2 linked regions of the Homo sapiens genome follow. The protein of the gene in region 2 purifies or fractionates together with the protein of the main gene of each other region. This does not show direct contact. Each region holds a gene or a part of one and is shown on either strand. Other genes may lie near its edges.

Region 1 (3,651 bases), on a different chromosome or scaffold from region 2:
ATCAATACCTGTAAATTCTCTTAAAGCAGTAGCAAAGGCGACTGTAGCAAGAGCTCAAAAGGCAAGGCAATATCGGAAAGTGTATTTAACAGAAGATTAAAAATATAAATGTAGAAGATCTGTTTATATATTTTTCTTTCAGAAATAAATCCCCCCTCCCCTGCCAGGTGAAAGGAAATATTGCACTTTCTGTTCTCATGACTAAGGGGACAGGAGTTCCAGAAGAACCTTTCAAGATGATCAGGAACACCAGGACGAGGGCCGTCTCACCTCACTCGGACCACATGGAGACCTCCCTTCAAAATGGGAGCCATGTCCTGCCCCACCAAGCCCTGTCTGAAGTGGAGCTTCCCCGCCTGTGCTCCCTCCACAGTCCCGGAAAGCCCAGCGGCAAAGGCAGCTTTGTCCCAGCTCTGCCACCCTCCTGCTCACAGTGGTCAGGGCCCCTCAGGGGCAAGGACGGCAGGGATTGGAACGAGGGCTCTGGAAGGACTGTTCAGCCCTATGCCTAAGACCCCTATGCTGGGGACACTACAGGCACACACAGGAATAGCAGGGCCACCCTCAGAGCTCACACATCCACGAACAAATGAAGGCTGAGGAGGTTTCTAAACCTAAAGTCCATGAGTGTGCACTTCAATCCAGGAAGGTCGGGACTTCCTTCAGTTTCAAAAAATAAATTCTCCCTTCCGGTTTGGACTGTTGCAGGCTCGAGGCCATTCAGGAGTTGTCCACCACCTGGTGGGGCAGTGTGACAGAGGGGCCATTGGGGAAGGTGGCTAGCTTATCCCGCCCCTTCAAGAAGAAGGTCAGCAGCTCCCCCTTCCCCTTCACAAAGATGGGGCCTCGCCTCACAAAGCGGAAGCCGTACTCTCGGAGGATGACTTGGGTTTCTTCTACCACCTGGAGAGGGAGGGGGAGCAAGAACGTGGCGTTACGGGGGGAGCCTAGACTGAGGGCGGGTGGGGGCTTTGGGTGGTTGGAGCCGAGCACTGATCCATGGGTCCCAAGCAGTACGGGACACTCCCCAAACCTCCCAGGGCCAAGCCCTTCCACCCGTGGCGAGCAGCGGGTGGGAAGGAGAACCCTGGAGTGACTGGCTGGGGGCCTCCTCTCATCCAGAGACTTCTCTCCTAGGATGGCCATGGTCACCTGGGTGGCAGCACTGTTACCTGGAAACTGCCACTGCCTGCTCTTCTGTCCCTTTGCCCCTTTCGTGGAGCTTTTCTGCCAGACGCCACTGAGACAGATCACAAGGTATTAGAAGGTTCATACCCAAAGGTAGGCCATATGCATCTAGAACTTCAGCCCAGATTTTGTGGATGGGTGGAAGTGTTTCTTCCTGTGCTGAGGCTAGCTATTGCAGAGATTCTTTTCCACTTGCCCCACGTCTCTGCCTCTGGACTTACTGTTCAGGGCCAGGGTGGGAGGCAGGGGCACGTGGGAAAGCACTGTTCCGGTTTTGTTCTCATGCCGAGTCTGAGCACGTGCCAGCTGTGCCACTGGACATACCTGAATGTTGCCCATGACCCCCGTGGACTCCATCCTGCTGGCTACATTGACTGTATTGCCCCAGATGTCGTAGTGTGGTTTCCGGGCTCCGATGACCCCAGCCAGAACCCCGCCTTTGTTCATGCCTAGGGTAGAGGCATAAAGTTCAGCACAGCCACAGGCCACACCTTGTTATGGGCCTCAGAAGCCATCTCCTCTCCAGACCTGTACCACAAAGCTCCTAATGTAACACATCATTGTCCTCATTCAACTTGGCTGTATGCTATTGGAGGGTGGAAATCACATCTCCTGTTTATCCGTGTGCTTGTTAGGTGTCAGCCGCCACCCCCCCCCCATATGCAGATTTACTCGGCATGGTAGTGGCCAGCTTCTAACACAGCTGGTATTTCAAGTCTCCTGGGACCTCACTCAGGAATGATACCCCCTCAGTAGAAGCAGCAGGTGATCTTAACTCCTTTCAAAGAGCAGGCCTGTCTGGGAAGCCATGTCCTCAGCAGGCACAGCAACCCCTCTGGAAATGGATCACAAACTCACTTCTCAGCCAGGCAGGCCAAGCTTCTATTGTAACAGTAGGCACAGTATAGTCGGATCATCACATCAGCTGGGTTTTTGGTTTAGTCATCTAGAGTCGTCTGGACTAAAGGTCTTTCAGGTCTCCTTGCCCTGTGAGTGCGTGAACCTCCCCACCCGAATTGCCTCAGTTGTCCTGAGCCTCATGTCTCTCCTGGTGGTGGGCCAGGCCCCTGCATGGGAAGGGAGCCTGCTGCGGGGCAGGCCAGCTGGGGGTGCTCACCTATGCGCAGCATGAAGTTATTGAAGGACTGGTTGTTGATGTTGGTGAGCGTATCCTTCATGGCCAGCGCGAAGTCGGCCAGGTCAGCCAGGTGCTGCCAGCGCTCTCTCTCGGACTTGTCTTCCTGTGCCAGGGGACCGTGGAGAAAGTGTCAGGGGCCGCTCACTGCAGCAGCCTGCTCTGCTGCCTTCCCTGGCAGTGTTCTGGGGGTGGATTCCCTACACCTAGATGTTCAAGGCCTTACTTTTCCTCCCACAAAGGAGTCGCAGCCACGCTAGCTCTGACTTGCCACTGTGACAAAGTTCACGTAGCAGGTCTAGGCAAAGACTGGGCAATTGAGCAGAGGAGACGGACCTGTGAGTCTGACCACGAGGCGGACCCCTTCACCTTGGCTGGGCCTGGTCCTGGTCCTTAGGTTTTGTCAGGTTGTCCTTGTTTGGATCCCTCAACTAGGTGATAAGCACTGGAGGGGGATGACCCGCCTTGGACGTGTTTCTTTAACCTCATCCATATAATAGGGCCGTGGGATGGTTGTAGAGGTAAAGCAGGATGATGGTGTTTTAAGACCAGAGCTTGGGACCAGGGCTCCTACACCTAATTTTCTCTCCTGGTAGCTGAACAAAGGTCTAAATTAGCTTAACAAAAGAACAGGCTGCCGTCAGCCAGAGTTCTGAAGGCCATGCTTTCAGTTTCCCTTGTTGACAATTGCTCTCCAGTTCCTATGAAAGCACAGAGCCTTAGGGGGCCTGGCCACAGAACACAACCATCTTAGGCCTGAGCTGTGAACAGCAGGGGGTTGTGTGTCTGTTCTGTTTCTCTGCTTGCCGAACTTTCTCAATAAACCCTATTTCTTATTTATATTTACGTGGTGCTGGTGGTGTGTGTCTGGGACCACTTTGCACAGCAGTTCTTATTTCCCCCATGCTAGGTCTGGGCTGCCAATCTCTTGCCTTGGGGGCAGAGCCTCATCTCTCTGGCTACTGGGGTTAGCTACCTTGTTGGAGCTGGCAAAGCCATTGGTGTTGACATCGGGGGTGACTCCTGAAGCCGCCATATACGTGCTGCCAATGGTTTTGATCTTGGTGATCACCCGGAACTTGGGATTGTCCAGGAGCTGAGGCCAGGATTCAGGAAAGAATTGTCAGCAGTCAAGGGAGAGGAATGACCCAACCCAGTGACAGATGTACCTGTTTACAAGGACCCCACTAAACCCAAGAGACACTTTCCTATCAAAGTTGTTACTTAGTCTACCGCTTATCTGCCACATGATCCTGGGAGAACTTCCTAACTTTCTGGGCCTGTTTCCACAACCTCAACACTGACATAAAATCGGCAGTCTCCTAGGG
Region 2 (3,651 bases):
TGACAGAATGGAGTGAGCCAGGGGTACAAGAAGAGATGTCAGGAAAGCTAGATCATGAGGCCTGAATTGTTCAAGACATGTGGGCCATTGCAGGTACTTTGGCTTTTACTTTGAGTGGGATGGGGGCCACTGGAGGGTTTTCAGCAGAAGGGGGACATGATATGACTTACATTTTGAAAGGATCTCTTTGGCTGCAGAAATGAGAACAAAACGATAGGGAGGAAGTACAGTTAGGAAGCTATTGCAATAATTCAGAAGAGAAGTGAAGCTATCTTGGATTAGGGTCATGGCAGTAGCTAAGATGTGGTCAGACCCCAGATAAATCCCAGCGTGGAAAAAACACCAAATAAGAGTTTCAGTTTTACAGGTGGGTGGAAGGCAAGGAGAAGGGGAGTTTGAGAGGTTCTTGTTCTAAACAACAAGAAGAATGAAGTTCTGCTTTCCTAGGAAGAAAGTTCTTGGAAGGAGCAGGTTTGTAAGGTAGGGTGGTCAAGAGCTTCCTACTGGACTTGTTAAAACAGAGATGCCTCTTAGGCACCAAAGAGAAGATGTTGAGCATGTTGGATATACAGTTCTTAAGTTTAGAAGAGAAGTAGGAGTTGAGGCATAACATTGGGAGTTAATAACCTACAGAAGATACTTAAAGCCATAAAACTTGGGAAATTGAAATAAATAGAGAAGAGAACCAAAGACTAACTCTGGGGCTCTTCAGTGTTTGGAGGTTGAATAGATGGGGGAGGAACAAACAAAGGAAAGTGAAAAGGAATGGGTGGTGGGATAAGAAGAAAACCAGGAGAGTGCGGTGTCCTGGAAGCCAAGGGGACAAGAGTTTCAGGGAAGAGGAAGTCAGTAGGTACTTCAAATGTCTGTGATAGGTCATGTAACATGATGTCAAATCCTCACAATAACGCTATGAAGCAGCTATTACTACTATTTTACAGATGAAGAAACACAGGCACAGAGAGACCAGCTCACAATGTAGCTCATGTGTCTATGCTCTTAACTACTGTAGCACATATATATGGTGGCTTCTGTTTTGTCCAAGATGATTCCATGAGAATACTTCTGTGATTAATACAATCCACGTGCACCCAGCTGTAGGGTTTATGTGGCTCTGTGATGTGGGATAAAGAGGTGCCTTGAGATTAATAAAGGAGGATTCCCCTTATGGCTATGCTATCTTCTATTGATGAAGTACAAGTCTTTGTAGTGAATTAACTGAAACATAGTATCTTTGTAAGGGTTTTTTTCAATCTGATTCAGCACTGGTGGTGACTTCCTCTATCAATCAAGTCAACTAATAATTTGTGAGTTCTTGTGGCCTCTGATTTTCCCAAGTTCCCTTGGGATCCCAGGTGTCAAAAGCTACCAAAAAGGGTATCAGCAAACCAAGAGACTAATGGCTTACAAATGAGGAGGTTGAACATTTGCCTCATGAGAATGTTGAAAGATTAACTAGAGAGTGTATTTAAAAGGCTTAGTCTGGTGCTTGCCAGATGTTAAGTGTTTCCTACAGCCCACTATTTGTGTCCTTAAAAGTTATTTGTGTCCTGTGTCCATTCTGAATGAACTATACCAGTTGTGCCTACTCTAATAGATTGGTGCCAGTGATGTGCTGTCTGTTAAATTTTTTTGTGATCACCCCTAGCTATACAAGAATGTGTGGGTCTGTATGCATGTGAGAAATTGTAAATTAAGAAGCACCTGAGGGTATTCTATTTAACTACTGGAAGAGGGCACTGACACCATGAAATCATAGGTTTTTGAATGTGAGAGGTTATATTAATGAATTCAGTACTACTGTACTCAGAATCCAGAAAGCTTATTTCTTAATTTGATGTGACAGACAGACCTTAAGGTGGCCCCAGTGATTACCACCTCATGGTATCCTCACTTTTATCTAATTCCCTTCCCTTGTATGGGGCCAGGACCTTTCACTTGCTTGTATCCAACAGAATACGGCAAAGGTGATGGGACGTCACCCCCATGATTACATTATGTTATATAAGACTCCATCTTAGCAGACTAAAGATAAACACTCTTCATGTGGGCTTGATGAAGTAAGCAGGAAGTTGGAGAACCTAACACGATAAGGAACCACAAACATCCTCTAAGACCTGAGAATGGCCTTCAGCCAAAATCTAGCAAACAGCCAGAGCCCTCAGTCATACAGGTATAAGAAAATGAATTTTTCCAACAACCTGAATAAGCCTGGAAGTGGGCTCTTCCCTAGTCTATACTGCAGATGAGAATGCAACTTAATCAACCAATCAATTGTAGCCTTGTGAGACCCAGAGAAGAAGAACCAGTTAAGCCAAACTGTGCCTGGAGCTCTGAGCCACAGAAACTGTAAGATAATAAATGTATGTTGTTTCAGACTACTATGTTTATGGTAATATGCATGCAGAAATAGAAAATGAGTACAGTTGGCAAAAAATAATAAAGCCTAGTTGAATGACTATACAAGAATTTTGGGAGGTATTGAAAAATATTTGCATTACAAAATTTATCATGAGACTAAAATGTTAAGACATTATTGTATTGAAGAATAAGAATACTCAGAAAAATCTAAGGAACAATAGAAAAACATCCAAAAGAATCATGCAGTGTGTAAATGGTGTTGTGGCAATTAATGGAAGAAAACTAGATCATGTAATTAGTACTGCTAAGATAATTGGTTACATAAGTGGAAAATACTATTGGTGCAATAGCATGTTTTAAATTAAAATAAAGCATAGATATAATACAATAATACTGCATTTTGTCAAACTGAAGACACCATTGATACATCGTAATTTTTGTTCCACTAAAACTCAATTGATCAACTGATTAACAGATCAAACTGAATAGGTCCAAAACCAAACTCTTGAGCCCTACCACCTCAAAACTTCTACCCAGAGTCTTCCCCAGCTCAGTTGATAGAAATCTCATTCTTCCAAACACTTTGCAATCCTTGATCTGGAATGTACTATGGTCTTCATATTCAAAATGTGTATAGAATCCAACAACTTCTCACAAGGGCCACTGTTATTTTTTGGCTAAGAGCTAATTCCATGTGGTTCTAGTTACCAATATCTCCTGCCTGAATTTCTGCAGTAACCTTCAGCTTGGTTCCTTGCTTCTAATCTATTCTCAATACAGCAGTTGGAGTATTCTCACCATACCATGAATAAAATCACCTCCTCTTCTGCTCAAAATCCTCCCTGTGTTTTTATTTTTGTTTGGATTAAAAACTAACGTCTCTGTAGTGAACAAAGGAAATGAAATACGTAAACTCTTTGCCTCACAATTTTCATTTCTTAGGAATAAACCCTGAAGAAATAATTCCAATGTGGACTAGTGTCATGTTAAATAATATTCATTTATCATCATATATCATAACTTACATACATAGTTCATAAACATCTAATAACCTAAGTAACATATATAGTTCATATATAGATATAATAGCCGAGTAACAAAAGAAAACCCTACAAATTAAATATCCAGTCACAAGAAGATTTTTCAGCTAAGAAATACTTCATCTATTGGATATGTTGGAATATAATGTGTATCCTTTAAGAATCCATATTGCTTTATAAGATTCACAAAGATATTCACACTTTGTGAATCTAATAAAGCAATATGGAAAACTATATGCTGTCAAGTTAG

The links.
Region 1: the proteins of SLC17A3 (region 2) and ADCY3 purify together in Homo sapiens (affinity purification with mass spectrometry; one large-scale study listed by BioGRID and IntAct). This does not show direct contact.

Annotation. Positions count from the first base shown.
Region 1 is NC_000002.12:24,819,212-24,822,862, forward strand, and holds part of ADCY3 (adenylate cyclase type 3), read right to left. Parts: intron 3,420-3,651; coding exon 3,300-3,419; intron 3,166-3,299; exon of another isoform or gene 2,430-3,165; coding exon 2,306-2,429; exon of another isoform or gene 1,638-2,305; coding exon 1,513-1,637; coding exon of another isoform or gene 1,354-1,512; exon of another isoform or gene 1,241-1,353; coding exon of another isoform or gene 1,169-1,240; exon of another isoform or gene 904-1,168; coding exon 721-903; 3' UTR 1-720.
Region 2 is NC_000006.12:25,864,171-25,867,821, forward strand, and holds part of SLC17A3 (sodium-dependent phosphate transport protein 4), read right to left. Parts: intron 1-3,651.